7 linked regions of the Homo sapiens genome follow. The protein of the gene in region 7 interacts with the protein of the main gene of each other region in a pairwise test. Each region holds a gene or a part of one and is shown on either strand. Other genes may lie near its edges. The genes, in order: PRR4, PDIA6, TMEM123, RAI2, ADAT2, NAXD and SGTB.

The links.
Region 1: the proteins of SGTB (region 7) and PRR4 interact in binary tests that used the Homo sapiens proteins (3 or more experiments, as listed by UniProt).
Region 2: the proteins of SGTB (region 7) and PDIA6 interact in binary tests that used the Homo sapiens proteins (3 or more experiments, as listed by UniProt).
Region 3: the proteins of SGTB (region 7) and TMEM123 interact in binary tests that used the Homo sapiens proteins (3 or more experiments, as listed by UniProt).
Region 4: the proteins of SGTB (region 7) and RAI2 interact in binary tests that used the Homo sapiens proteins (3 or more experiments, as listed by UniProt).
Region 5: the proteins of SGTB (region 7) and ADAT2 interact in binary tests that used the Homo sapiens proteins (3 or more experiments, as listed by UniProt).
Region 6: the proteins of SGTB (region 7) and NAXD interact in binary tests that used the Homo sapiens proteins (3 or more experiments, as listed by UniProt).

Annotation. Positions count from the first base shown.
Region 1 is NC_000012.12:10,846,358-10,851,142, forward strand, and holds the start of PRR4 (proline-rich protein 4 isoform 2 precursor), read right to left. Parts: upstream 3,119-4,785; 5' UTR 3,081-3,118; coding exon 3,017-3,080; intron 2,051-3,016; coding exon 2,015-2,050; intron 1,011-2,014; coding exon 706-1,010; coding exon of another isoform or gene 688-705; intron 1-687.
Region 2 is NC_000002.12:10,785,304-10,789,074, reverse strand, and holds part of PDIA6 (protein disulfide-isomerase A6 isoform d precursor), read left to right. Parts: intron 1-93; coding exon 94-178; intron 179-305; coding exon 306-378; intron 379-1,635; coding exon 1,636-1,794; intron 1,795-3,771. UniProt on the Homo sapiens protein: May function as a chaperone that inhibits aggregation of misfolded proteins. Negatively regulates the unfolded protein response (UPR) through binding to UPR sensors such as ERN1, which in turn inactivates ERN1 signaling.
Region 3 is NC_000011.10:102,449,687-102,454,717, forward strand, and holds the start of TMEM123 (porimin precursor), read right to left. Parts: upstream 3,080-5,031; 5' UTR 2,938-3,079; coding exon 2,838-2,937; intron 1-2,837. UniProt on the Homo sapiens protein: Implicated in oncotic cell death, characterized by cell swelling, organelle swelling, vacuolization and increased membrane permeability.
Region 4 is NC_000023.11:17,850,881-17,855,204, forward strand, and holds part of RAI2 (retinoic acid-induced protein 2), read right to left. Parts: intron 1-4,324.
Region 5 is NC_000006.12:143,436,907-143,441,230, forward strand, and holds part of ADAT2 (tRNA-specific adenosine deaminase 2), read right to left. Parts: intron 4,235-4,324; exon of another isoform or gene 4,147-4,234; intron 1,789-4,146; coding exon 1,684-1,788; coding exon of another isoform or gene 1,680-1,683; intron 1-1,679. UniProt on the Homo sapiens protein: Probably participates in deamination of adenosine-34 to inosine in many tRNAs.
Region 6 is NC_000013.11:110,625,378-110,629,701, forward strand, and holds part of NAXD (ATP-dependent (S)-NAD(P)H-hydrate dehydratase), read left to right. Parts: intron 1-2,061; coding exon 2,062-2,170; intron 2,171-4,324. UniProt on the Homo sapiens protein: Catalyzes the dehydration of the S-form of NAD(P)HX at the expense of ATP, which is converted to ADP.
Region 7 is NC_000005.10:65,676,578-65,680,901, reverse strand, and holds part of SGTB (small glutamine-rich tetratricopeptide repeat-containing protein beta), read left to right. Parts: intron 1-107; coding exon 108-246; intron 247-345; coding exon 346-408; intron 409-4,324. UniProt on the Homo sapiens protein: Co-chaperone that binds directly to HSC70 and HSP70 and regulates their ATPase activity.

The sequences.
Region 1 (4,785 bases), on a different chromosome or scaffold from region 7:
ATATAAAATAATATGTCATTTGTGGGAAAAATAATGACGTATGCTTATATACATATAAATATTTCCAGGAGGATGTTCAAAAAATTAAGGGTGGTGACTTTTGGTGAAGGGTGTGGGTAAGTAGGATAAGGCGTCACTTTAAGATTTAGCTTCATACCATTCTGTTCAGTTAGATTTTTTTTTCCTTGAGCATGTACTAATTTCAAAATAAGTATTTTAAAAATTAAATAAGATATAAGAGCATCAAGTTCAAGTATCATTTAGCAGGGACACTGGACCTGAGAGGCTAGTGTGAGGCAGGACTGAGCAAAGAGTCCTCTGGCGGAAACCTGAGAGAAACCTGAGATGGAGAGTCCTTGGGTTTGAGAAGGCAGACTCAAAGACAGGAGGCAGAGCACCAAAGGGAGAGCACACCCCACTTCCTCATTACCAACTCATTTTAATGAGACAAGTCATCTTAAGAAAAAAGTTGGGGAGGTCAGTATTTCAAAAGATAAGAATTCTTTGAACCACTTGTTAAAAATACAAGGACTTGCAACCTTATCCAAGAATATCTGAATACAAATCTTTAGAAATGGGGTCCAGGATTATGTAATTTCAACATATTTCCAATTGATTTGTGAACACGATAAAGTTTGGGAATGGTAGCAGTTTGGGCATTTAATGGAGAATGAACTGGAATCATACCTGCCACTGAATTCTAGATTACCAGAGTGGTTGCTCCTGGGGATGTCTTGCTGGTCTGTCCCTCTGGAAGAATGATGATGCTTCCTGCAGGCTGACAGAAGGAAATCGGGGTAGAGAGAGTTGACGGTGTCCTCGTCGGGGTGGTCGTTGCTGATTTTGAAAAGGAGGTGGGGGAGGATGGCGGTGATGGCCTCCTGGTTTTGGTGGTCTCTGCTGAGGACCATCATCTTGGTTACCACTATCACCAGGGGGTCTAGGTAGGAGTCCTTCAGGAGGAGGTCTCTGGGGTCCCTGATCTGGTCTCTGACTTGAGTCCTCTACATCTGTGTGAGTAATTAATGGACAAGAATGCATGAGCTCAGTGAAGAAAAACTCTCCTCTCTTTATACTTCTCTCACCTTACCACACAGCCCTGTTCTCCCCAAACCTGCTGCTTGACTGTCAACTTCTTTTGTGCCCACTGTTTTTTTTTTCTTTTTATGCAGCTCTCAACTTAATCCATGTAAGAGTGATATGGAAAGTCTCATTTATTTGCTCCTGTGACAAGTATGTTTCCTTAAATGAAAAGAGGGGTTCTTGCATATCTTAGAGTTGCCAGAGGATGTCTCCAAGGACAGAAAAAAAAAAAAAAGCAAAAGCATTATAGCTTTCAGTTATGTTACTGGTTATTTTTTATTTTTATTTTTTGGTTGCTGTAATGACTTACAAACTGTGACTCCATCTCTGGGCACCTAAGCCCTATGTGGAAACTAGAGCTGATTTCCCAGGCTCCTGGAACCAAGTAGAGAAATACTAAGAGACAGAAGAGAAAGACAATGTGAAAGCCTGCACATGATCACTAAACAGCTGTGGCAACTATTTATCATCTGTAGTGACACAGCTGAGTGGGTCAACACAGAGAAAAGACATTCATGCAGTGATTTTTTTGTTTTGTTTTGTGTTACTCCCTGAAGCCACATAACCGTGCGGGGGAACACTGGGGGAAGAAAGAAGCAGTTAAGGATGGAGGAGTCAGAATGAGAACACTTCTCATTTGTTCATCATCTCTCAGCAGTCATTCCAGCCTGGGAAAAAAGCCTGCCCACTCCTATTGTCCTCAAAGCCAGGCATCTCTGTATTCAAGTTGGTGGCCTGGCTCATGGTCCCCAGAATCAAAGATGGGTAAGAATTGCCTATATATTTAGGGGCACTAATATTAATCAATGCCTGACCCCTCTTACCACCTCCTCCCAAAAAAATGATGAGAAGAAGACACTGAAGGAAACTAAAAAGAAATTCTAGTGGAAAAAGAAAGAAAAGAATTGGATTGAGGATCATTGGGATTTACCTGGTATGGTGAAAGTAAAGTCTTCATAGTTCACATCTAGGAAAAGAAGCACAGGATGAAGTGAACATTACCTCATAAATCTTTCAGGGCTCATAGTGGTCTATAGGGAAAGGGGTCTTCTGGCCACACCCTGTGCATCCCCTAAGTTACCTCATCAACCATGTTCTGTGAAGCTGCTGGAAGGGGAGGAAGATGTTAGGGGAGGCAGGATTGTTACTATCGCTGAGCATCAACCACGAATTCAATAGAAGAGTCCCTTTTTGTCATCCTTAGGATCCCTCAAACCCTAATGCTAATTTAGGCACACTTCTCTGGGTATTTTCATGTCATATTTTAGATCTTTACCTTCTTCCTTCTTTAAATATTTTGATCATATTCACAAGCTTGCCCAAGAGGAGCAACCAGGAGTAAATATTTGGATATAATCTTACACATGCTGCCTGCAACATATTGAAATTTTAAATGTGATTGGAAGAAAAATGGGAATTTGGGGACCTGATATTTCTATACCACTATGTAGAAAGACACAAATGTATTATCCAGTCCTCTATGTCTGACAGTACTCTGATGTTTGTTTATCTCTTTCATTGATTCTGCATCCCCTGTACAGCAAGGACACCATCATCGCTGTCCACTGAGATTACTGTAGCATCTTCATAGCTGGACTTCCCTGGATCAGTCTTGCATTCTCCACTGCATCCTTCACAGCACAGCCAGGTCTTTCTAAAAATACAAATCTTACTTTGTCATTCCTCTAATTGAAATTCTCTATTGGGTTCCAAGTGTATATCAAATAAAGTATAAGGCCTTGGCATGGAATGAGGGCACAACAGATGTCATCCTTGGAATGAGAGCTCCAAAGCCCTACCCTTCTTCTCAACCTCCTTCCTCCCCTCCTGCTCTTCCGCTGCAGTGGTGTAGGGTGAACCCCTGAGGCCCTAGAAGAGTCATGGCCCCTCATCCCACTCCCCATCTCCTTTTTTAAAAAAATAATTTTTTTACCATTATCTGTGCTCTGAGCTGAGCTCAGAGCCAGAAGGACCACTGAGAGCAGGACCAGCAGCATCTTGAAGGAGGCTCTGGAGTTGCTCCCAACTCTGCGTTGAGAGAAACATGGCAGCTCCCTTTATAAACATGAGCAGAACAATGGCACCTTTGAGCTCCATACTGGGTGGACCTCACCACCTGAAAGATTAGGTTTTGCTTTCCTCTCATAAAGTTGAATGCGTCTCTTATTACTTTTTGGGATTTTAGCCCAGCAGGATGTGGTGGTAGGATGTGGTTAGGTACAAACTGTGACTTGAGCATAGTTTCTGAAGAAACAGTATCCAAGCAATCAGCACAAATACTACAATTGAAGTTTGGTCATCATTTGATTTTCAATTGGGTTAGACAGTTAGTCTTTCCCCTTCATTGGTTGTCTGTGTGCACACGTGCTTACGTTTGTATATGTTTGTCAGCAGTGATCTTATAGCCAGAAGTGAAAATGATTAATATCTCTAGCTATTAGTGTAGCATAAATTCCATTTTTATAGCATATATACCTATATGGATGATATGTAGCTTAATTTCATAATAATATAGAGATCATTTCTGTTTAATGTTGAGTTGTGTGAGGACAACACACACTTGGGCACACGTGGATGACAGAAGTTTTACCCTCAGGCTACTCTGGCCCAAAGAGATTAAGATTCTCCTAATCTAGCATTAACCAGAGATACTTTATTGTTGTAGAACACAGGTATTAAAACATTCTATCTTTATTAATACCCTGGAGGTTAGTAAGGCAAAATTGGCCACAGAAAGCACCATTAGATTTCTGCATCAGAACAGTGTGAATACACAGTTCCTTGAACAAGCCATGCTATTTTATGTCCCTAAGACTTCTTCCATGATCTTTCTCTTTTCTAGAATGTTCTATATGATTCAGTTTAGGTCTTACTTCTTGTACCAAATATTTTAATCACACTGGTTATTGAGTGGACACAATAATACAATCTAATTAGATAGTATGATAGCCTGTTGAAAGCCTCAAGTATTACATTGATTTTCTATTTTTTAATTAGTTTCCATTCTATTTGCTTCTCAGATTGCCTTTACCAAAGATTATTTTCTCTGCAATATTCTTATACTCATTCTTCTTCACTCTTGTGCTGAACCTTACTTGTTGATATGTTATATTGTGAATCAATCCTCCCTATGTCTATGTTTTATATCTTACTGCTTTCTTCATGCGTTCTGGGAGAAATCTTTATTTGATTTTCTAAACAAGGTTCTGTACTTCTCTTTGCTTGCTTTCTTCTTTTTTGTTTTTAAAATTTGGCACCAAGGTTTTGTGTTTCTGAAAAGTTTGGTAGGGTCCTGAGTTGGTAGCTTAATCTTCACCTGCTGATTTTTCTGTCCTATCTAGTAGTTTTCTGCTTATATTTTCATGGAACCCCTAGATCAATCAGTATCACCAGCTGCCACTTTTCATTACAGGCATTGTATAGGTCTCGTATTATTGTTACATTTTTGTACAGGGCTGGTGATAATTTGAGGATAGCTTGGTTGGAAGTATGACAGGGTCGGGGGAATGTGACTGGAAATCTTAAAGACAGGCCTCTTGACCATTGTGGATAAGTGGATCCTGTGCTGTGCAGATGAAGGTCTGGTCTGGCAATTCTGAAGGGTTGGAGGTAATATTACAGGAAGATTTTCTAATCAATGGTGTTTGTTATGGATAACTTTACTTTGGCAAAGTGACCAAAAAATAAATATTTTCTCTGGCA
Region 2 (3,771 bases), on a different chromosome or scaffold from region 7:
AAAGTGACGGTGCGAAGGTCTTGTTTGCCAGCTTACCTTTAGGTGTTGTATCATGCAGCCTCCTGATTGTCCCTTGTCTTTTGGGTCCCACAGATTATCAACGAGGACATTGCCAAGAGGACGTGTGAGGAGCACCAGCTCTGTGTTGTGGCTGTGCTGCCCCATATCCTTGATACTGGTAAGACAGACGGAAATGATTTCCCTTAGCTGTTCTATGCTAGATGCTCTGAGAATACTTTCTAAATGGATTAATTTTATGGACTCCTTTATCTTTACCTTTAAAAAACTTTGTCTATTTAAATCAGGAGCTGCAGGCAGAAATTCTTATCTGGAAGTTCTTCTGAAGTTGGCAGACAAATACAAAAAGAAAATGTGGGGGTAAGTTACTGAGCTTACTGTCTGAGTGTCATCTGAACAGCTGATTATAGGCTTTCTTGAGAGTGGTTCCCCCGTGTTTTTGTAAGCTGTGTTCTATGTTTGCTCTGCTATATGTTTTTTTTTTTTTTCCCTCCTGCCTCAGCCTCCCAAGTAGCTGGGATTATAGGCGCCCGCCACCACACCCAGCTAATTTTTGTATTTTTAGTAGGGTCAGGGTTTCACCATGTTGTCTAGGCTGGTCTCAAAACTCCTGACCTCAAGTGATCCACCTGCCTCCACCTCCCAAAGTCCTGGGATTACAGGTGTAAGCCACCGCACCCGGCCTGCTCTGCTATATGTTTTTATTCAGGATGTGAAAACTTTATCATGGGAGGAAAAGAAGGAATGAAGGGCTGTCAGCACAGCATGCATTTTTCTCATAGGAATCATGTTTTACATGGTGATTGGAGTGCCAGGTTAGCAGGCAGACACATAAGGAGTAGTGCACCTGAATTCTACTGTGAACTTGAAGGCTGGGTGAGAAAGGGGAAATAGAATTGTTTCCTTCTCCTCTTCTGAGTTAAGGACTGGATCTAGGCACATTTTCAAAACAGTGTATCTCTTTCCTATTTTATCCTTTTTTTTTTTTTTTGAGACAGAGTCTCACTCTCTTGCCCAGGGTGGAGTGCAGTGGCACAATCTCGGCTTACTGCAACCTCCGCCTCCCGGGTTCAAAAGATCCTCCTGCCTTAGCCTCCTGCGTAGCTGGGACTACAGGCGCACGCCACCATGCCCGGCTAATTTTTGTGATTTTAGTAGAGATGGGGTTTGCACCATATTGGTCAGGCTGGTCTCGAACTCCTGACCTCAGGTGATCCACCTATCTTGGCCTCCCAAAGTGCTGGGATCACAGGCGTGAGCCACCGTGCCCAGCCTCCTTCCTATTTATCTTTTTGCTTCTTGTCCTCAGTATCCATTGCTTTCCCCAGGTACCTAGCGCCCCCTGTTGTCCCTCTCTCGATGACCTTGCTCCTCCTCCATTAGTCCAGCAAATGTTTATTAGATGCCTACAGAACGCGAGAACATGCTTAATAACCCAAATGATATTGGTGGGATTTCAGGTAAAAAGGGAAAATCCATATAGAAACTCATCTTTTGTTTTTATTTGTCATTCTACGAAATATCTGAAGCGTGATCTTTTGTTCTCTAAGATCTTCTAGTTAGATCGTAAGCAATTTAAAAGACATATTTGCCCTAAAAACCAGTCTGGTTTTCTAGGTGGCTGTGGACAGAAGCTGGAGCCCAGTCTGAACTTGAGACCGCGTTGGGGATTGGAGGGTTTGGGTACCCCGCCATGGCCGCCATCAATGCACGCAAGATGAAATTTGCTCTGCTAAAAGGCTCCTTCAGTGAGCAAGGCATCAACGAGTTTCTCAGGTAATTTGTTTTCTTAGGTTGTTTGTTGTTTTGTCTGTTTGTTTGGTTCTGTTGTAGGTTTATATTTGGAACTAGGTATATATAAGCCAGGTAATAAATGGAATTTAAAATGCAAACTAATTCCAGAGAATTGAATGTTTATACATTAGAGTTTTTAAATTGTCTCCCTGTTCGTTCTTTTTTCCATGGAATACTCTGCTTGCGGGATGAGGAGAAAGCATTGCTACCCTCGGGCCGCCCTGTGTGCCATTCTGTGCATCTGGCCCTGGGCTCTTTCTCATTCTCATAAAGGTCTCATATGGGCTAGAGGCAGCCCTGTCTGTCCATCCTCACCCTCATATGCATTGTAATCTTGACCTTGGGGAAATGTGGTTTCCATTTCTGGGCACTTGGCTTTGGAATGTAGTTATTTATTTGAAAATGGGCGTACTTAAGTTACTCCAACAATGTGCAAACAACATGATAGGTTCTAAAACCAATATACAGAGCTGTCTACTCTGCTCTGCTATTCAGCTCACCTAATCATCTTTTAGGCAATACAGGGCATTGACCTAAAGAGGTTTTATTTCCCATTCTTGCTTTCTTCCGCGTTCATTTCTTAGCTGCTGTATAAGAGATGTTCAGCACACAAAAGGTAGTTGAGAGGCTTGTGTTGAATAATGAATAGGAAGAACAGTACATGAAAGCCTGCAGTGCTCTTGCTGCCAGTCTTCCTACTTGACACAGAAGTTTGTGTGCTGTGTGGAGACGTGTGTGTGTGCTGTGTGGAGAGTAGGGGCTCCAAAGTCAGGTGCCTCAGTCACAGCTCTGCCTTGAGTAGTGAAGTGGGAGGCATGGAGGAAGCCCTGTGAGATCAGCTGCTTCAGCCTCTGCCGGCGGGGGGCAGACTGTGGCTCCTTCCCTCCCAGCTCTCTCTCATTGTAGTTGGTTAATATGGTTAATGGGTGTTTTCTTTCCCCCCCACCCCCGAGACAGAGTCTTGCTGTGTCGTCCGGGCTGGCACGATCTCGGCTCACTGCAACCTCCACCTCCCGGGTTCAAGTGATTCTCCTGCCTCAGCCTCCTGAGTAGCTGGGATTACAGGCGCCTGCCACCACGCCCAGCTAATTTTTGTATTTTTAGTAGAGATGGGTTTTCACCAGGTTGGCCAGGCGGGTCTCAAACCCCTGACCTCAAGTGATCCACCCACCTCAGCCTCCCAAAATGCTGGGATTACAGGTGTGAGCCACCACGCCTGGCCAAGGGGGTGTTTTCATTAAGTTTGTGGGGCTGGGTGCGGTGGCTCACGCCTGTAATTCCAACACTTTGGGAGTCTGAGGCAGGCGGATCACTTGAGGCCAGGAGTTCGAGACCAGGCTGGCCACCACGGTGAGACCTTATGTCTACTAAAAATACAAAAAATAGGCCAGGTGTGGTGTTGTAGGCCTGCAGTCCTAGCTACTAGGGAGGCTGAGGCACACCCAGGAGGTGGACGTTGCAGTGAGCTGAGATCACACCACTGCACTCCAGCCTGGGCAAAAGAGTGTGACTTGGTCTCAAAGAAAAAGAAGTTTGTGGACTGCTTAAGTTTGTGATTGTCATAGAGTAGTATTTATTAAATCATGAAGTCAGAATGTGAATATATCTCCTGTAATTTTTTTTTCTAATAATAGGTTTGCTTATTCTAGCCCATTGGTGCCATAGATTGTTAGTCTAGCTCTATTATTCTATGAGTTGTTTGGTGAACTCTAAATATTTGTGCCCACAGTATTTCTGGCTCTGGTTTCCCAACAGCCAGATTACACCAGGTCTGGTATGTTTCAAGTACTGATGTTTATGCACATACGCACCCCGCTCTCTGCCAGCGCACTGGAACCAGTCGCCTCACTTCTGATATGCTCCCTCTGTACAGGTTCACAGCAGTCTTAGAAAGCTCGCAGGCAGCCCATGTTCTAGATCAACTTTGATAATTATTTATGTATTTAATTTGTATTTCAG
Region 3 (5,031 bases), on a different chromosome or scaffold from region 7:
TGTAAGATTAACTTGAAAAAGATCAAGGTCAACAGACTACGTAGATGTATTTAGCAGCAGATAGCAAACAATTGCCAACATTATTAGGTGCTTACCACAAGCCAGGGTTATGTGCATTAGCTCATCTAACCCTCTCAACAATTCTTAGGAGTATTGTTTTGCAGACAAGAACTGAGGCCCAGAGAAGGCCGCCCAGATACAAAGTGGCAGAGACTGGAATTGGACCAGATAGTTTGATTCCTAAGCCTGCAGATATGAGTGCCAAAATGGAACTACTGATTTTCTACTATAAACCTGCTCCTCCCCCAACCTTCCCAATTGTTGCATTACCAGCTGCTCAACCCCAAAACCAAGAGGTCATCCTTTGATTCTTCTCTCTTCCTCATCCCACCCTCCAATCCATCAGCAAGTGATTAGTCCCAACCCCCCATAGATCTAGAATCCACCCTTTTATCTCCATTGCCACTCACCATCATCTTTTGGCTGGGCTAACACAACAGCCTGTTTTTGTTTCCCTGCTATTGTCGCTCTTAACGCGATGATTTCTTAATTTCTTGGCGACTTATTTGAACACTTGAATACAGCCATTTTCAAGCCACCTCAATCCTTGCACTTTTCAGTTACAAGTCAAAAAAGTCCCTTCTTTCCACAGTTGTTCAAGGTGGGTTTCTGTCACTTGCCACTAAGAGTAATGACTAACAGCCGCCCCTCCCATCCTGTTAATGTTAATGTCATTCATTGGAATACTACAATAAATCCTGTTTGCTGATTTGCAAACTTGCTCATAGTCTCCCTCCTCCTTCAACTGATATTTATAAAGCTATGCAGCTGACTGTGAAGAATATTTTAAAAGCAGAATTTCAATAATGTTTTTATCTTCTCCCACAATATTCTAGGCAATGGTAATACTGTGGAATAAAAGTATTATCTACTTCAAGAGCCATCATCATCTAACGCGGCTTAGTGGTGAAATGGTTAATTGAAAATTTGGATTTTGATCTGAAACCAAACATGTATTAATTGTTTTACTTGCCATAAATTAGCTTACTTATCTATAAAATGGGGACGATACTGTGAGGATTCAATGGGATGATTTATGGACCTAAATTAGCATAGCGTGGGATGCACAGAATATGTACCCAGTAAAAATCAGCCATTAAGAGTTTTAGTATGATGGCTAAAAATCACTATACTTCGTAATGACATTGTATACAGATTACACTATACATGAAGACTACGATTAACAGTTACTAGCTTTTTTGAGAAATCTTCTATTGTATACCTTTTAGTCTAGTTGCAAGGTGACATTATATAGTCTGTAGAAACAGATTCCACCTCTGGTTGGTTATACTAGTTTATGAATTCAGGGCTCGCCTACTGTAGAGCATTTCAAGTTTTGCAAATGGGACTAACCTCTAGTAAGACATTAAGTAATAAACAGAACAAACAGTGCTAAAATAGGGCAAAAAAAATCTGTGTTATCAGGGCAAAAGAAAGAAAAGCATGGTCACTCACAGTTTCTCTAATCGGTAATTCATTGAAACAGTAAGGCTTATCTTCACAAACACAGCAACAAATTTTTAAAAATGGAGACCTCACCTCATGAGATAATTGGTATAAAATTAGGACCAAGATACACGATGGACATGATTTTACCACTTTTTTTCTTAAATGATCTCAAAATTAGGTCTGCGAAGCCAGTTTGTCACACGCACAATTAAGCAAACAAAAAAACTTCAGCAAAACAAAGAAAAATTGTTAATTCACCCAGGTTATTCCAGAAAAAGCAAGTGTTGTGCCTGAACCTTCCAGATTTACAAACTGCCTTTTTCTTTTGCTGGATAAAACGAACCTAAGGCTAACATATACAGTGGATGGATAGAACTTAAAACCATGAAAACCTTGGGTTACTTAACTTATCCTAGTTTACTGACCATTACCTAGGGACCTGACTTCTCTAACAGTTGACAAAGGAAAACAGTATTTACACAACAAATCCCAACTTCCTGGTTTCATCCAAAAAGGGCTGTTTGAAGTCTCCAAAGGGCCAAGGGCCTAAAACGAAACAAATTCCGCCCTACACAGAAAAGCAAAGTCAACATCATCCTGTTACGACCTTACTAGCGACGACAAGGGCCACCGGCGACCGTGCAGCTGTGCCCTTAACGCTGCGCAGCTGCCGCGCGCCTCGGCCGGGTGTTTATGGCACACGAGGGGTGGAGAGCGCCCCGCCATGGGGGCGGCCGCCTCAACTACCGCGAGGGCGGGGCGCGCTCCCCAAAAGCTCCCAACTAGCTCCAAGAGCCCCGAAGTCTAACTTCGAGCGTCAGGGGGACCTAAAGATTGTAATTCATCTGGATAATACTGCATAATATTAGACGCTGAAATGCCTGGGGGACGCTTGAAAAGCTCCCCGACTAACTGGGAGACGTTTCCGCGGGCCTAGGTAGACATATTTTTCAACTCAGCTAATCTTGTTTACAAACGGAAGCCTTAGAAACTCTAACCTCGGCAAACATTAACTTCAGGGAAAGGCTGTAAAAACCAACTTGCGGTAACTCAACAGGTTATGCGCACCCGTCCCGGCCTGCGACCGCCGCATCCAAAAAGCGAGAGGGGAAGCACCAGGCAATTTCCTCAGCAGGCGGCCCCGGGGCCAGCGGGTGACTGGTCCAAACCTCAGTTTCCCCCACCCCGCCCGGTCACCTCTGGGTCCGCCCCGAGCGTTCGGCCAGACACACGCGGAACTTTCTGTACCAGAGCCCAACTTGGGAACCCAAGCCTCGGCAGCGCGCTGCCTCCCACGAACGGGGCTGACGACCCCCGCAGCCACTTACCCGCCATGGCTGCGCTTTCATGGGCGGCCCCCAGCAGCGCTAGCACCTGCAGCGTCCCCAGGAGCAGCGCGGCCCAAGCACCTCGCGCGCCGAGTCCCATTGTTCCGAGGGCAGGATGCGGCAGCCTCGTGGGCTCCCAGCCGAGGTGGCGGCGGCGAGAGCGGCTCCTCTGCGCAGCCGGCGCCGGCTCCGCTTCCCCTTCGGCCGCGCACGTTTCCCCTCCCGCCGCTTGCCCCCCGAATGACCAAATAGGGCGCAGGAGCGGGGCCTGGAGGGGGCGTCGCGTGCGCAGCCGGGGCGGCGGGGCCGGGCTGGGTGGCGCGGGGGCGGGCTCGGGGTTCTGGGCGTGGCGACTCGGCTCGCGGCCTCCCTCGCAGGCGCGCGCTTGGGAACCCCAGAAACCGCGAGCCGTTTCCTTTCTCTTCGGAAATGGCAGTTTTGTTGTCCTGGATGAAGGCGAGCGCCGCTGCCTCCCTGAATGCTGAGCACGCTGGCTTCGCGGTGCCCGGAAGGAAGCCTTTGAAGAGTAGTTTTGCGGGCAGGGAGGGGACAGGGGTGCGTGCGACTCAGAGTGAGAGGGAGGAGTTGCAGGGCAAAGGCGGGAGGAGGGGGAGATTCTGGAGAGGAACTTGAGGGGATGGGATTCACTCTAAGGAGTCCTGGGCGGTCGGAGCTTTCCCCTCGCGTGACCCAGCCTAAGGGGGAAGTGGAGAAAAACAGCTCGACAGATTTGTTGCTTAAATTCAAACGTAAAACACCTACGATCTTCTTATCCCAGTTGTACTTCATCTTCTCCACGGGTTCCCTGTATCTCTGATTAAGACACGAGATTAGTGGAGTGGGCGGGTGGGGGCGCGCGCAGGAGTTGGTAGCAACTCTCAGTGAAATACAGTAGAGCCATGGAAAGCGGGGGCTGCATTAATCCAACCAGCCTTTTCTCTCCTTGTGCCCTGCTGTCCCAGTTCAGATGAAATGGCCAGTTTTGAACAGTTTTTGGCTGAGTTCCTTTTAAACCCTTGGAGCCAATGCTAATCACTTGTCTTGACTTGAAGTGCTTGTAAAGTCTGCATTTTCATCGTGCTCAGAACTCTGAAGTGACATAGCTACCTGTGGCTAATGCATGAGAATAACAAAGGCTGAGTCCTGGCTTGGGTGGGAACCCTCAGCTGAAGTAGAAGACTGAAGGATCCAAGGAACCTAAAATCACAGTGAATCCCCACCTGCAAAGGTCTTAATGTTGCAGATCTTTGGCACCTGAGCCAGATTTCATCACATAAAGGCCACATTGCAGTTAACTTTTGAAAACTGTGTTATGAGAGGTAGAACTTTCTCATGTCAGGCAAATCCATCATTACAGAGGTCTGACTGGTCCTAGAGATTAACTGAGACAATCTGTCCTAAATTTACAGAGACTTCCATCTGTGGATTCAGTCAGCCAACCTGCAAATGTTTCCCCTGCAGCTTATCATGGACAAAAAGCAAGCATTGCACATTTCGATTTTGGTTATTCTATTTAACTGGGGAATCTGGTTTAGGAATAAACCGTTCTGGTGACTACCCCATTATCCAAGCATTTCCCAATCTAGGCCCAACCTGTCTTTCCAGCCTTGGTTCTGTTGCCCATGGAGAAGGGTGCTTTCTGGTTCCTGGCATTTGCATACGTTGTTCTTTCCTTCTGGAATTCTCTTCACCAACCCACAGCTAATACTTCCTTTAAGGCTCAGTGTACTTATAGCCTGGGAATCTGGGGTGGAATAAGAGGTCTGGATGTTTATATCCCCACCACATTCATGTGTTGAAACCTAATCCTCAAGGTGATGATAATAAGATGTGGGACTTGGGTGGGCATAGTGGCTCATGCCTGTAATCCCAGCACTTTGGGAGGCTGAGAAGGGTAGATCGTTTGAGGTCAGGAGTTGAAGACCAGCCTGACCAACATGGTGAAACCCCGCCTCTACTAAAAATACAATTATCTGGGCGTGGTGGGACGTGCCTATAATCCCAGCTACTCGGGAGGCTCCCGAGTAGCTGGGAGGCTGAGGCACAGGAATCGCTTGAACCTGGGAGGTGGAGGTTACAGTGAGCCGAGATCACGCCACTGCACTCCAGCCTGGGAGACAGAGTGAGACTTGTCTCAAGAGAAAAAAAAAAAGATGTGAGGCTTTCCGGAGGTGATTTGGTTGCTAATGAATGG
Region 4 (4,324 bases), on a different chromosome or scaffold from region 7:
GGGCAGTTTTGTAAAGTGGAAAAGGTTTAGCTTTAAACAAAATAAATTTACTGCATTTTCACTTTTCTTCCACTTCACTGTGAGGGGGCAGAAATCCTGTCCGATACAGGCAGTGGTCTGCAAACCTGGTCTGTGGGGACCACTGGCTTATGGGACATTCTAAGATGTTTCCCCTTGCAGTTTTGGCTGTAAGCTTCAGCCCTGATGACCTCAAATCCAGCTGCTCAGCCTCTATGAGCACAAACAAAGCTTGGGGTTTCTGGTGTGGCTGTGTCGAACATGGAAGGGCAGGGCAGAATTGGCCTTTTCTAACCTTCTTAAAATGCCAGTGATAGACCAAAAAGGATCTTAGAACAAATGGCCCCATATTGATATTTTCACATTCAATAATTTTATATTTGGTCTAGAGGGCTAGTGATTCTTTTTTTCATAAAAGGAAATTGCATCCAGAGCTAATTGCTCAATCTGAAATGGATCTGGACATTGTTTAGATGTTGGAAAGGAAACGGTAACATTGTAGAGCTTTCACAAAGAGGGGAGCATTATTTTAGAACAAAATTTAAATGGAAATTAATAGGAAATGTAACTCTGTATGGTTTTCAAAGCTTTGATGTGCATAGTCGAAAGAGTATCCCTATTCTGTGCTTTCCTTGACATTTTTCTTGTTTATAAAATGCAATAGGAAATTCATCGGCACAGGCTCAATCCATTCCCATCCATTGATTGCTAGCCAATCAATGACCATTGTAATCTGAAAAAAAGTAACACTGGTTTCTATGACCCTTTCCAAGCACAGCACTGTTTAGCTAAGCTTAATAAAGAGAAAAACAGCAAGGACCATCTGGAAAACACTCTTCCGGAGTCTCGAAAGATAGTGGCAGCCTCTGCCCAACCTGCTATAAATAAGTGTCTCAGAAACAAAACAAAACAAAAAAAACACCCGATTTTCAAATCTGTTTCTACTTAATACAGCTGCAATAGGGTTTATTTAGCTTTTCCCTATAGAAGGAAGACTGTTTGCATTTTTATGACAAGTTCCTAAATGTTTTTCACAGCCATTTCCATTGCCATTATTTTGAGGAACAACATACCACTCAGATCTGTCTGTTTGCTTCTGCACACACAGCGGTGGCCCCAGTGGCCTCTGCACCACGAAACTGGCCTCCAACGCCCAGATTTATGATCCTATTTCCTCTCCCAGTGTTGCAACCATCACCTGAATCCTGGCCTGCAACGGACTGGCAACTTAGAATGTCCAAGTGTCACGTGCTACAAATCAATTATTTATCCGCCTGAGCCCAGCACACTGTGGATCCCTACCAGCTTGTTGCCTCTCTCTTCATGGCGACAAGGAAGACTTCAACTACTCTTCAAGAGATGCTGGAACTCACCAATGAAGTGTCGCTGGCTTGCCAAATCCCTCAATGCTCACCTTTCCATTTTTCCTCACTGGCTAGTATGCAAGGGAATCCTACACATGACACTCTTTGGAAAAGGTCAGCCTACCTTGGATGGCTGCAAAATGAAGTGGCCTATGTTGACTTCTGCACTGAACAACTGCCCCTATCCTTCACCAGCATCCCCTGCTCCCATATCACTCTCAGAGGCTGGCAGGGGAGGGCTAACTGGGGAACACTTTCCCTGTATAATGAGTGATCCACTTCTCTGCCCTCTCCCTGCCCCCCAAACACCCATTCCATTTCCATGTATGGGCAGGGCATGGTTTGCCCGCATGACACCTTCCTTGTGTAAGGCATGACCCTCCTTTCTAGCCTTTCAAGGGACTACCAGAAAGAATATGGCTGAGGGCTTGTCCTGGTGGCAACATTTCATCTGCTGTTGCTGCCTGTAGGCATTACCAGGTGCTAGCTGCCTGAAGGAGAATTGCTTCAAGGAAACAAATGTGTGTAAAAGGAAACAAAATTGCCAGGGGTGATGGGGGCTACCTGAATTTCAATCATTACGAAAAATGATCCATCTACCGAGAAAGTACTGTTGACTTTCTCTCTCAATAGTACTGGAAAACATGGAATTTAGTGGTGGGTAAAGGGCTGCTACAATCTGAAATGAGTCCATTACAATATTACGAGCAGAGCTCTCACAAGTACACTAAATGGCTAAATCAATTGGCTCGGGCTTAAGATGCTACCGGAGAAATGACAGTGGGGAGGGGCTGGGGGTGGGGGAAGATGCCTGCTGACTTTGAAGTCATGCCTGGAATCAGGTGCATATGAAAAAGAAATTAGGGAGGAATAAACCTGTTCTCTTTATGAAAAACCAGAGAAGCCACTAGTTCTTACAATGTGCCCCCCAATCACCTATGACTTATAAAATTGCCTGCCTTGAAAAAGTCTCTATGCTTATACAATCTTATAGACCCTTCCACCAACCTTAGAATTAAATCACGCACATGACCCACTTCCAACCGTTAATTAATCATGCCCATGAATTGTATTTATAAAAGTCAGAGGGGGAAAATTGTGTCTTTTATTATGTCAAATGGAATTTTCCAAAAAAACACAAAGTACTTATTAAATTTTGGTCTAGACAAGTGGTCTTCAACAGGGCTAATTTTGTCCCAGAGGGGACATTTGGCAAGGTCTAGGGTAGGAGGATGTGGTGTTAACGGTATCTAGTGGGTGGAGGCCAGGGATACTGCTGAACATCTTAAGGTGCATGGGACAGTCCCCTGCAACAAACAATTCTCTGGTCTAAAATGTCAACAGGGCCAAGGTGAAGAAACCATGCTCCAGATAAAGCCAAATATGCTTGGCCTTTAACATTCATTTTTTTTTTAAAAAAAGGGAAAGGATCCCATTTTTTTCAAAATCTAAGGCAGGTTTACATATATGTTGACTAACATATTTACTCCTTTTCCATATAAATGAAATAGGTTCTCCATCTGAATCTAGGAACATTAAAGAAATATTGTGATGATGGTGGGGGTAGGTATGGGATATTTTAAATGCATATTTCATCAGTCTAAATGGGTGGAAATTAATATCTCATAAAATAAAATGATTATCTAGTTATGTTCCATACAAAACCAAAATCAATACACTGTATCTTACCTAAACTGCAATTAGAGTTTTAAAAAAACTAAAACAAGGAAATGCTATTCTTTCCCGTTTTTTGCTAGCTGGGCACACACTTCTGAGCATGAGGCATTAAAAAACAAACAGGCAGACAAAAACCTTATTTTTTTAAAAAGACATATTTTTCCAGAGCACAAAAAGCTTCCTGAATCTTTCCTTGTATTTACTGTAGATTCAATCATTCCTTAGTGAGCAAAACATGCAGCCCATTCTCTTGGTTATGCTTGCCTGGCTTTCCAAATGCCCTCAAAACTAGGATGATGAATCACATACTTTGGCCCCATTGTGCCAATTAATAGTAAGCAAAAGAATTCCACACGGCCAAGATAGGACTTTCTGCCTGGTTGTGCATACGGGGGTGGGGAGGGATTCTTCAGCCAATTGCTTTCAGAGAATCTTAAGAACAGGTGTTTCAGTTCCCTAAAATTCCTTTCATCCTAGAACATTCTATGTGGTTCTGCAGTGCCCCCACTTTGGGGATGGGCTTTGATCAGGAAAAACCTATGTTCATACAGTCAGCCTGGAGCTTCCAGGCTTAAAGCACGAAGGAAAGAATGGCTGACAGCTACACCATTTCAACCCTTCCAGGCCTCCATTTCTTTCTCTGAATTATAAGGGAAAAGTGGCCATACACACAAAGGCAAAAATAACAACAACAATAAAAACGCCCAAACACACCCAGTCTTGGCTGCCAGCACGGCCCGATTCTGCTGCTGAAAAAGAACAGTTGCTACAGTGCAGCTGGAGGAGCTTTTCCAGGGAACTGGTAATACCCTGGCTGTTAATGAATTATTTTTCGCCAGAATGTCGGATTCTTCCTGTGCTCCAGTAAACAGTCTGCTTCTGCCATGTGAAACAAAACCAACTCCTTCTGAGGAGCCCAAGGGGGTCAGCCAAGGGTCCCCTGTGAGGGCAGCCCCCTCAGGAGCCAGAGCCACAGGCGCCTGACCTGTAAATCACTGCAGTCCCAAGTTCATTATCCCATCCCTTTCCGTCTATTTATGCCATGACCAGTGCCTAGGGAAGGACCCAGAAATGATGTGATGTGATGATACCATAGTGCCAGCCAAAATCCTTCTTCTACCTCCCTGAACTCTCCTTTGGCCAGGTTTCTTCATCTGCTGTGCTATGGTTGTGTGAAATTGACCTTCCTTGCATTTATTCTGTCTCCCTCGCAGAAATTTTATTTATGTCCTTGCTCTTGTTCTCATCAAGCTGTCAGGAAATGA
Region 5 (4,324 bases), on a different chromosome or scaffold from region 7:
CACTTATTACAGGGTAAATTTAAAACTGATTCATTAAAAAGTTGTCTTTTTCAAGAATTCAAAGGACAAAGAATTTTGTGAAATACTATATTTTTATTTAAGTGTCTTTTTTCTTTCTAATTCTACACTTCGATCTACTATTTTTCATAAGCAAATTGATAAAAAAGTTTTTTTGGGGGGCTGACATATTAACTACAGATTTTCTATGCAGTGAACATGGTTATATATAAATCTGAATTGTCCAACTACTTTGTCGGAACAGTTCCTATTGATTGGAACTGCTAGGGCGAAGTATATGCAAAATCTACATTTTGAGTAAATTTCCTATAATCAATGTAAGCTTTCCCAGTGTTTGAACGTTTCCCATTCCCTAAAACTGTTCAAACATTAGATATCAGTATTTTTAATCACTGATAATCTAATGTTACAAAGAAATTGCTTTTTTCTTCTGTTAAAGTTAAGTTAGATCATCTTCATGTAGCCTTATTGGTTGTTATTTCATTTTCCTCTGTTCCTTTTATTTTCACTTCCCTTGTAATATTAGTCTCTCTGTTACTGATTTCTAAGAACTCATTTCTGATTAAGGATGTGAACATTTTGTCAAGCATTGCAAATGAAATACCATGTTTATTCCAGTTTATTTTACTGTGGTGTTTTATTTTTTTGGTTGTACAGAAGTTACGTATTAAAATATAATCCTGTTCTATTTTATGGCTAAAAATAAATAAGTAAATAAATGATTTGTGAATCTGGATTCCTATTTTACATGTGTTTTGCTAAATATCAGTTTTCTTTTCAATAGATGTGATTGATAGATGAACTAGTTCCCACAGCCCTGGTATCAACACCAGCTTATTCTCTGGCTCCCAAAATCATATGACAAGATAAAAGTCTGTGTGAATGGCATTACAGGTATAAGTGATCTTTGAGTCCACCTAGGAATTTTTGTAATCATAAAATTTGGTAGTTTACTTATACTTCCCAAGTATACTTATCATGACACACTATTGTGATACCATGTTTAAGAAGCATTGCCTTGAACCATGAACTTCCCAACCTAACCACAATAAAAGTCATACAAGCTATTAAAATGTACATGCTACATGTAGCTACAGAGGCAGCTGGTGTTGAAGACCCTATTTTGTTGAATTATCTGATAAAGGAATAGCTTCCTTTATATAATCCTCATACCTCCCTCCAAAGCTATACATTGAGGATACTTTTTTAACTTACTAGGATGAAAATATTATTTAAAGGTACTAAAAAAGGAATGTATTATGAGTTAAATTGACCTATTTTATAAAATGAAAATTTCATATATTAGATTGGCTTAAAGTAGAGACAGACTTGTTTCTTCCATGCTGACATTCTGATGAAATAAAATCCCCTCTTGGGTTTCACTCAAGCATTAGAGTAAAACTCTATGAAACAGAAAATTATTCACTAAGATTTTATGGCTTCATTAAATTGTTCTGAATTTTCCACAATAAAAAAAATCAACATGTATCACTTTCAAAATCAGGAAGAAAATGATACTGAAAAAGAGAGACGTTAAGAAAAGCTACCCACCACTGGCAGCTACGGGACTATATTCAGTCTCACCTTCACACCAACTGTGGTAAATTCTCTCCAGTCCACCCATCACTACTGTATGTTTGCAATTATACTGCTCAACTCACATACATTTTTGGTTTGGTTAACTTCATTTCTCCCCTTCCCTACAACTTCATTGTTGTAGACCATAAGACAGCCAACAGGAACTTCAGTATTTTCGAGGGCTTCTTTGGCCTGAAACACAAAGTGGAAAATGTAAGACGTAATACTCCATACTTGAAGAGAGTATAGGAGAGAAAGAGATGCAGCATGAACAAGATACACATGTACAAAGACTGAAACAAAGAAGTGCAGCCTTCCCTTTTCTGGAATATAGTTCCATTACGGTATTTAGTGCCCGTGTTCTGTGTTGTGTCCATGTTAAGGGAGACTCAAAAAAAATCCCCTTGATAGGTCCAGAGCCCCTGATGTCTTCTCATTGGAAATAGACGTGATCAAAGGAGACTGTGACTGACCACTGTTCTTGAAGTGCCAGGGTCTATGTGTCTTTTCAGAGATAGAATACATATTTGCAAAAAGGTAGGGGACTAAATAACACTTATAGATCCTTTATTACAATCCTTTCCTCACTGAAATTCCTTTGCTTCTCTAAAAATTATAGAAATTATCCTCTAGAGTCCCAATAGCTAAAGGTAACCAGACTGGATGTCACCCTGTCCCACAATTTCTACTCTATGTGAGACAATAAGAGTTTAGAAGTACTCTATGTAAAATGGCACAATCATTATGAAAAACGTTTTGGAAATTTCTTTAAAAAGTAAACACACACACAGTCTATAACAAAATTCCACTCCTAAGTATTTAAAAGAAGGGAATATGTGTCTACAAAAAAAAAAAAAAAAAGAAGAAGAAAGAAAGTTTGAAAAAGAACCAAAACCTTGAAAAAGAATGTTAATAGCCAAAACCTGAAACTGCACAGGTGGCCATCAACAAGAAAATGGATAAACAAACTGTGTCCTATTCATATAATGGAATACTAGTCGGCAATAAAAAGGAACTACTGATACTGTGACAACATGGATGAGCCTCATAGACATGCTAAGTAAAGGAAGTCACACACAAAAGCACACATACTATATGATTCCTTTTGCACAAAGTACCAGAATAGATAAAACTAAACTACAATGACAGAAACTGGAACAGTGGTTGCTTCATGGAGGAGGATGTGCAGATTGATTGGGGAGGTACACAAAAAAATTTTCTGAGGTGGTGAAAACTTTCTGGATCTTGATAAAGACATGGATTACAGAGATGTTTGCATTATTCAAAACAGATTGAAGGATACATTTACAACCTGTGCATCTCACTGTATATAAAGTATACCTCAACTGAAAAAAATCAATGAGAAAAACAAGTTTAGGAACACTTCCATGACTACCATCCCAGGAATGGCAAACCAATTATTATATTCTCAAAGTTCCCTTTATCACAGGCCATTCGTTTTTCTTCTTGTCCCATGATAGCAGCTCTGGGCCCTAGGAAAATTAACTCTACCTTCAGGCGGAGAGCTTAAGCAGGCAGGTTATGCCTCAGTATAACCTGATACTGCCTCTGAGAGTCAGAATAAGGGAAGAGTACAACCCTTGGACTAGTGTACATTCATTCCCATCTCAATGCAGTCAAAAGAATATAACTGCTGTACAGCTGTTTCCAGAAAGGCAAGGTATTCCTTACTGTGGCAGCCCTGAAGAGACTTTGGAAGACTTGATTCTCACTTAAGTGCAGGTACTTACACACATCATAGGGCATATAAAGTGCAAAGTTGAAGGCATTGTTAAAACAGTGTCTTCTGTCTCCTGCACCAGTCTCTTACTCCCAGTTCTACTTTATTTAACTAGTGACAACTTCCTATTATAAGGCATACAGGATTTCCTCAGTTATTCCCACCATGTTCAACGGACACTTATTCTTCATTTGGCCATTAGAGGAAAAAGGAGACGCCCACAGCAGGAGCAAACTGGGCCTCTCTTTTCTCCATCTGGTTGGTGGGTCAGAGATGGGGCATGGAGAGATGTGAGAAGACAGTATCTGATGCAGTAAGACTGCATTCAGGACTATTTTATGAACTATCCACAGGCCGGTTGTGTCCCAGTTCTGTGACAGTGGTTAAAGCATGTCCAGTTTATGCAAGTTCAAAAGGCTTGAAGAGTCCCGAGGTTTGGTTAATATAGACAAATGCACCATAGGCTACTATAGAGAAGAAAGCCAGGAAGAAGACGGACAGTTAAGGAGAATGGAAATGCTAACTACCAGTGTAGCTATGGCAATTATTATACTAAGAATTTTATTTAAGGTAAGTGTAGAATTACACAGAGATCAAGGTACACAGAAGAGACAAATCATTTATTCATGCAAAAAATATTTGTTGAGGATCTTGAGATGGAGAGATTATCCCAAATTCAGGTGGGTCCTGAAGGCACCCACAGAAGGCAAGAGGCGAAGTGATAACGGAAGGAGAGAGAGAGAGATTTGAAAATGCTGCACTGCTGGCTTTGAAGATGGAGGGATGGGTCATAAATGTCACTTCAGTACCTGGAAAAGGCAGGCTTCCAGAAGTTATTCGGCCCTGCCAAAACTTTGATTGGGGCTCACTAAAATTTCAGACTTCTGGCCTCCAGAACTATAAGAGAATAAACTTGTGTTGTTTTTAGCCACCATGTTTGTGATAATTTGTTACAGCAGCCATAGGAAACTAATACATGCAGCAAAG
Region 6 (4,324 bases), on a different chromosome or scaffold from region 7:
CCTCAGAGTTTCTCAGCAGGTGCTGTAGAGGAAGTAGGGAAATGAAGGAGCCCGTTCTTCTGGGGTCAGAATAAGACAGAGACGGCGGGGTGGAGAGGTGGGTGGGGGAGCTTGGGCCTGTTGGAAATGGCCGGGGCCCAGCTCCAGAGGCAGGGAGGCCCTGTGGGCTGTGTGTGACAGGTTTGCAGAAGGTGGAAACGAAGGGCCTCTGAGCAATAACAAGACCCTTCCTGCACTCGGCACATATGTCTGGTGCCAGGCCCTAGCCTGTGTTCCATGGGTCAGCGTGGAACTGGGCAGGCAAAAACCTGCCCCCGTGGGGCTCCCCCAGACCGCCTATGCTATAGAGCTTGCTGTGTGGAGGTGTTCTCTCTGCCGTCCAGGATTGTGGCCACTGAGGGCTTGAAATGTGGCTGGGAGGTGCGGGAGCAGAGCGTTTGCTCTTGTTTACTTTTCATTGTGTGTGTTTGCACCGACTGGATTGGGCTGTGCTGCTCTGGAGACAAGGGAGAGGAGGATGTCAGGTGGTGAAGGAACCGTAGAGAGCGGCAGCAGGGAGGGGGCTGTGAGAGTGGGCAGAGGGGCAGTTGGGGCGGCAGCACAGTGTGATGACGCCTGGGTCGAGCCCGGCCTCTCCACACCAGAGAGGAGCCGGCGCGGAGCTCCAGGTGCGGTGCTGTGATGTGTCGGGTGACCAAGAGGTGCAGGGCTGGGCCCCACAGGGTGTGGGGCTGCTGTCAGGGCTGTGGCTCTGGCCCTGAGTAAGCAGGGCAGGGCCAGTGTGGGTCATAAAGGCTCCTACGCGGCTGTGGGGCTGGGCCGGAGGCTGTGGTAAGGACCTGTGGGAGGGAAGGGTGCAGTCAGATGGTGAGAGGGGCCGGATTCTGGGTATGTTTGGAAAGTTTGGGGGTGGAATTTGCCGACAGATTGGATTGGAAAAGGCAAGGGGCACAGACTCCACCAAGGGTTTTGGTCTGAGCGAGTGGTCACTCCATGTGGTGGAAACGGGCTTGGGTGGGATGAAGATGAGGCGTTGGGTGTAGGGCGCAGTTTGGCTGCCAGTTAGACATCCAAGGGACGTGGCTAGAGGGCATTGGACAGTGGGGACACGGGCTTGGGAGTCATGCACATGTGGACGGTGCTTAAAGCTGGAAGACGAGGGAGTAAGAGGCGGAGGGGGGCTGGGGTTGGGGGCAGGGGGGACTTGGCACTCAGATGCTGGGAGCACGGGCTGGGGAGGAGGCAGCAGGGGCCTCCAGGAGTCAGTGAAGCCGCTGTTTCCAGACAGCTCCAGAAGGGCCTGTGTGTGCGACTCTGGGTCAGTTGGAGATGAGGCCTGAGAACAGTTGGTGCATCTCACAGTGCGGGGTGACCCTGACAAGGGAGCTTGTCGGGGAGGAAAGGGGACAGAAGCCTTAACAGTGGGCTCTAGGAGAGGTCACACCGAACAGGAAGGAGTTCTGAAAAAGCAAACCCCTGCCCTGTTCTGAATGAGAAACTGCAGCAGGGTCAGTGCGTTGTGTGGGGCCTGGTCTATAAGCACACAAAGTAGGCTTTACAGCCACACATGTATGTGATGGAAACAAACGGGCTAACTTTAGAGGGCAAAGATGATTTTGAAAATAGCCATCGTTCTTTTTCTAACTTGTCGTAACTGTTGAAAGCTAGGCATGTAAATCTGGGCATTAAAAGAGAGATCAGGGAGAGGCAATGGCCACATGCAGTGTGGGGCCTGGTTTGGGTCCTGACATGGGAAGAGGACATCAAGAGGAAATGGGAAATTTGGAAAATGCTGTGGTTTAATGAATAGTATTAACCAATGTGAACTTGGTCATGCTGATCCGGAATGTGGGTGTGTGAGGCGTTAACCTCGGGGAGGCTAGGCGAAGGGTACATGGGAGCCTTCTGTACTGATTAAATAATAAATCTAAATTACAGAAATTATTTAAAAGTCATTACTATTTATAAGTTATTTTTTCAAAATAAAATGTAAACAAATACATGACAGTAAGTAAATGAGGAATTGTGGGTAACCATCCTGGCCTTCCTTTCCTTCTTTAGTGACAGCCCCAATGCTGTTCATGAGGTGGAGAAGTGGCTGCCCCGGCTGCATGCTCTTGTCGTAGGACCTGGCTTGGGTAGAGATGATGCGCTTCTCAGAAATGTCCAGGTAATGTGTATACTCACTCACTTCCCTCATGACAGGCTTAGCCTTAGGCGTGAAGTTGGAACAGAGGCATTTCTCTTGCATTTTGTGTAGTGTTCCGTGTGCCTCTTTGTGGCATGATTGAGATAAGATTTGAGGGACGGAGGAGAAACTGAGTGCAAAGGTGGGGAGGAACTGTGCTGAGATGTGCTTCTCTCCGGGCCCGACTGTTTTCTCATGGAGCAGCTGCAGGAGGTGTGTGTGTGGAGTTGCTCAGTTGTTTTATGTCTGATGTGAGGAGAGGGTGAGCAGGACTGAGGAGGTGACAGAGGTTTGGGGTCAGGCCTGGGTGTATCTCCCAGGCCACCCCCTTCTTGCTGGGGGATCCTGGGGTTCCCTCAGCCTCCTGGGCCGTTGTTCCCACACAGCCCTGGCGCCATGCTCTGCTGACATCAGGCTGTGAGGTGACACGGGCCTGCTTGTCCGTGCCCACATGCATATGCGCATGGACTCTCATTTATGCTGGTATTTCTTTCTTAAAGTTCATCTTATGCCCACCTAAATCCAAAAGATGAAAGTTATTCTGATCACTTTGTGCCTGCTGTAAATAAATACCACCTGGGATCAGGGGCGATAAAAAGATGGGGATGGCTGCCAGCTCTGTGTTCCCTGCGTCCTCTGACGCTCCCTGGGCTGGTGTGTCTCTGCTGGGGGTTGTGCTCCTGTGGGGCTGCCCTCTGAGACCCTTTCTCAAGTTCCGGGGGACCCCTGTTAGAGCTCCTGGGGGAAGACACAGTGTGCCAGATGGCTTGGTGCCACAGGGTGCTCACATGTGCAAGGCGTGGTGACTGCATGGGGATCAGAGGCCGGGCATTAGTGAGGGACTACGCTTGAAGCCCTTAGAAGGTGCCTGGCCATTTTGTGTTCCCCAGATCAGCAGTCACCCTGAAAATGCCAGCCATCTGCATGGCACTCTGTTGGGTGCTTAGTTAATGGAGGGGTCTCTGAGGCTGCGGGGCTTGAAGGCGGCGAGTGATGGAGCCAGCAGTGCAGGATGAGTCATCTGAGGGGCAGGCAGACGCAGGCTGACACTGCACAGACCAGGAAAAGCGGCGTGGAGTCAGCACGGGAGCCCGTCTTTGAGCTTTAAGGTCTTACCCGCTCACCGGGAAGGAGGAGGTGGCCATGTTTAGGAGCAGTAGAACCCTCTGTCATCCCCGGGGAGAGGCTCTCAATGGGGAGTCCCATCTGCAGGCTGCGGGTCTGCGGTGCACGGCTGCTGCTTCCTGTCCAGCTCTGCATCCTGGGGGTGCGGATGAATTAGAGGTGAACGAGCCAGAGTGCTCTGCTTCAGGTTATTTTCTTTGTGAATTTAAGTTCACAATTTAAAAACTGGTATCTTAAAAAACCACTGTACTGCGTGGAAGTGTGAAAGGTGGGAAGTGAGGGTGTGCGTCGCTGCCCCTGCAGCCCAGACTCTGGACCTTGCATTCTGGTTCCTGTACACTGTTGCCGTGGTCTTGAGAGCCCTCAGGTCATCTAGCGTGGGCTGCCGCCTCCTCGTCAGCTTCCAGCTCGTGTCTGGTGCGGAGCAGAGGCTTCCTACTTCGTCGACGTTCCTGAATGAGGTCATCATCTGGTGTAGGCCTGAAAACAACCCGATTAGGTAGATTCCTATTCATAGCCCCATTCTTCTGATGACAGATTGAGTCCTGGCAAGGATTCAAGACGCCCGTGGGATCTGGTAGCAAAGAAACTGCAGAGATGGTTTTTTAAAAACGACTTTATTTAGATGATTTACCTACCATACCCCTCACCCATTTAAAGTGAACTATGCGGTGGCTTCAAGTATATTCATAGTTGTGCAACCATCACCATGATCAACCTTAGAATATGTTTATTGCCTCCAGAAGCAGCCCATCCCCGTTAGCATCTGCTCCCTGTTCCCCAGTCTCCCCAGTTCCTGGCAGCCACTCAGCTAGTATGCTTTCTGTCTCTCTGGATTCGCCTGTTCAGGACATTTCATATGAATGGAATTATGCAACGTGTGCTATTTAGTGATTAGTTATGTCACTCTGCATAATTTTATATTTAGAGTTACCTGTGTTGTAGCATGTATCAGTATTCCATTCCTTTTTATATCTAATATTTCACTGTATGCATACACCACCTTTGGTT
Region 7 (4,324 bases):
TCTGGATTAGAACTGAATACCAAGACAGACAGACGTTTGACGATGTTTGTGATGTCCTGATGTTCTTTAATCATATATCTGATATTCTTATATTCTATTCCCTTCAGGCTGGCCCTCACTGCCTTGAATAAATTTGAAGAAGCAGTTACAAGTTATCAAAAGGCATTAGATCTTGACCCTGAAAATGATTCCTATAAGTCAAATCTGAAAATAGCAGAACAGAAGTTAAGAGAGGTATCCAGTCCTGTAAGTTGTTAATGCCAAATGAGTGAAGTATTTTCTGTCATTCACAATTTATTGTAATTGTAGATACTGGACTGATTCTCAGATATAATTGTTTTACAGACAGGAACTGGACTGAGCTTTGACATGGCTAGCTTGATAAATAATCCAGCCTTCATTAGTATGGTGAGTATACTTTCTTTTCTGCCTCTACTGGCTATGTTTTCCATAGACTATGTAGCTATGCAATTTTTTTTAGAAACAAGTGAGTTTTTGTGGTGGTGGTTGTAGTGGAGTATTGATATAAGGCTATAGCAGGGTTCTGTTTTTTTATTTCCAACTTTTATTTCAAGTGCAGGGGTAAATGTGCAGGATGTGCAGGTTTGTTACATAGGTAAAACGTCTGCCATGGTAGTTTGCTGCACAGATCCTCCCATTACCCAGGTATTAAGCCCAGCATCTATTAGCTGTTCTTCGTGATCCTTCCTCTCCTCCCATCCTCTGCCCTCCAACAGGCCCCAGTGTGTGTTGTTCCCCTACATGTGTCATTGTGTTCTCATCATTTGGCTCCCACTTGTAAGTGAGAACATGTGTTATTTGGTTTTCTTTTCCTGTGTTAGTTTGTTAAGTAAAATGGTAAAATGGCCTCCAGCTCCATCCATGTCCCTGCGAGGGACATAATCTTATTTCTTGTTTTGGCTGCATAGCATTCCATGGTGTATATGTACCGCATTTTCTTTATCCAGTCTATCATTGATAGGCATTTGCATTGATTCCATGTCTTTGCTATTGTGAATAGTGCTGCAGTGAACATACGTACGAATGTGTATTTACAGTAGAAAGATTTCTATTCCTTCGGGTATATACCCAGTAATGGGATTGCTGGGTCGAATGGTATTTCTGCTTCTAGGTCTTTGAGGAATCACCACACTGTCTTCCACAATGGTTGAACTAATTTACATTTCCACCAACAGTGTTAAAAGCATTCCTTTTTCTCCACAACTTCGCCAGCATCTGTTGGTTTTTGTTTTTTTTGTTGTTGTTGTTGTTTGTTTGTTTTTTGAGACAGAGTTTCACTCTTGTCACCCAGTCTGGAGTGCAATGGTGTGATCTTGGCTCACTGCAACCTCCACCTCCTGGGTTCAAGCGAATCTCCTGCCTCAGCCTCCTGAGTAGCTGGGATTATAGGCACCCACAACCATGCCTGGCTAATTATTGTATTGTCAGTAGAGATGGGGTTTCACCATGCTGACCAGGCTAGTCAAATGACCTCTGGTGATCCGCCTGCCTCAGCCTCCCAAAGTGCTGGGATTACGGGCATGAGCCACCACACCTGGCCTGTTTTTGAGTTTTTAATTATAGTTGTTCTGACTTGTGTGAGATGGTATCTCATTGTGGTTTTGATTTGCATTTCTCTAATGATCAATGATGTTGAGCTGTTTTTTCATATGTTTGTTGGCCACATATATGTCTTCTTTTGAGAATTGTCTGTTCATTTCCTTTGCCCACTTTATAATGGGGTTGTTTTTTTCTTGTAAATTTGTTTAAGTTCTTATAGATGTAGGATATTAGACCTTTGTCAGATAGATAGATTGCAAAAATGTTCTCCCATTCTGTAGGTTGTCTGTTTACTCTGTTGATTGTTTCTTTTGGTGTGGAAAAGAAACTCTTTAGTTTAATTAGATCCCATTTGTCAATTTTTTCTTTTGTTGCAATTGCTTTTGGCATCTTCATCATGAAATCTTTGCCTGTGTCTATGTCCTGAATGATATTGCCTCGGTTTATAGAGTTCTTATAGTTTTGAGTTGCACATTTAAGTCTTTAATCCATCTTGAGTTGATTTTTGTATATATATGGTATAACGAAGGGGTCCAGTTTCAATTTTCTCCATATGGCTAGCCAATTCTCTCAGCAACACTTATTAAATAGGGAATCCTTTCCCCATTGCTTTTGCCAGGTTTGTCAAAGATCAGATGGTTGTGAGTGTGCAGTCTTATTTCTGGGTTCTCTGTTCTGTTCCACTGGTCTATGTGTCTGTTCTTGTACCAGTACCATGCAGTTTTGGTTATTGTAGCCCTGTAGTACAGTTTGAAATTGGGTAGCATGATGCCTCAGCTTTGTTCTTTTTGTTTAGGATTGCCTTGGATGTTTGGGCTCTTTTTTGGTTCCATATGAATTTTAAAATAGTTTTTTCTAATTCTGTGAAGAATGTCAATGGTAGTTTAATGGGAATAGCATTGAATCTATAAATTGCTTTAGGCAATATGGCCATTTTCACGATTTTGATTCTTCTATCCATGAGCATGGAGTGTTTTTCCACTTGTTTCTGTTCTCTCTTATTTCCTTGAGCAGTGGTTTGTAGTTCTCCTTGAAGAGTTCCTTCACTTTGCCTGTTAGCTGTATTTCTAGATATTTTATTCTTTTTATGGCAATTGTGAATGCGAGTTCATTTGTGATTTGACTTTCGACTTGCCTGTTGTTGGTATGTAGGAATGCTAGCAATTTTTGCACATTGATTTTGTATCCTGAGACTGTGCTGAAGTTGCTTATCAGCTTAATAAACTTCTCGACTGAGACAATAGGGTTTTCTAGATATAGGATCCTGTCATCTGCATATAGGGATAATTTGACTTCCTCTCTTCCTATTTGAATATGCTTTATTTCTTTATTGTGCTTCATTTCCCTGGCCAAAACTTCCAATACTATTAATTTGTTGAATAGGAGTGATGAGAGAGGGTATTTTGTCTTGTGCTGGTTTTCAAGGGGAACACTTCCAGCTTTTGCCCATTCAGTATGATATTGGCTGTAGGTTTGTCATATATGGCTTTTATTATTTTGAGGTATGTTCCTTCAATATCTAGTTTATTAAGAGTTTCTTATATGAAAGGATGTTGAATTTTCTTGAAGGCCTCTTCAGCATCTATTGAGATAATCATGGGGTTTTTGTCTTTAGTTCTGTTTATGAGATGAATCACATTTATTGATTTGCATATGTAGAAACAGCCTTGCATCTTGGGGATGAAGCCTCCGTGATTGTGATGGGTAAGCTTTTTGATGTGCTGCTTGGATTCAGTTTGCCAGTATTTTGCTGAGGATTTTTGTATCAATGTTCATCAAGGATATTGGCCTGAAGTTTTCTTTTTTGTTATTGTATCTCTGCCAGGTTTTGGTATCAGGATGATGTTGGCCTCATAGAATGAATTAGGGAGGAGATCCTCCTTTTCAATTTTTTAGAATAGTTTCTGTAGGAACGGTACCAGCTCTTCTTTGTACCTCTGGTAGAATTCAGCTGTGAATTCGTCTGGTCCTGGGCTTTTTTTTTTTTTTTTGGTTGGTAGGCTATTTATTAGTGCCTCAATTTCAGAACTCATTATTGGTTTATTCAGGGATTCAATTTCTTCCTGGTTCAGTCTTGGGAGGATGTATGTGTCCAGGAATTTATCAAGTTCTTCTAGAAATTCATTAGTAAAATTTCTAGTTTATGCGCATAGGACTGTTTATACTATTCTTTGATGGTTGTTTGTATTTCTGTGGGGTCAGTGGTAATATCATTTTTGATTGTGTTTGTTTGAATCTTCTCTCTTTTTTCTTCATTAGTATAGCTAGCGGTCTATTTTATTAATTTTATCAAAAAACTAGCTCCTGTATTCATTTTTTTTTTTTTTGAAGGGTTTTCTGTGTCTCTATCTCCTTCAGTTCAGCTCTGATCTTGGTTATTTCTTGTCTTCTGCTAGCTTCGGGGTTTGTTTGCTCTTGTTTCTCTAGTTCTTTTATTTGTGATATTAGGTTGTCAACTGGAGATCTTTCTAGCTTTTTGATTTGGGCATTTAGTGCTATAAATTTCTTTCTTAACAAGAATGAAATTTTAGCTGTGTCTGAGATTCTGGTATGTTGTATCTTTGTTCTCATTCAAAGAAGTTCATTCTTCTCATTCAAGAAGTTCTGCCTTAATTTTATTATTTACCCAAAAGTCATTCAGGAGCAGGTTGTTCAATTTCCATGTAGTTGTGTGGTTTTGAGTGAATTGAGTGCCATGTGGTGATGAGAAGAACGTATATTCTGTTGTTTTTGGGTGGAGAGTTCTGTAGATATCAGGTCCACT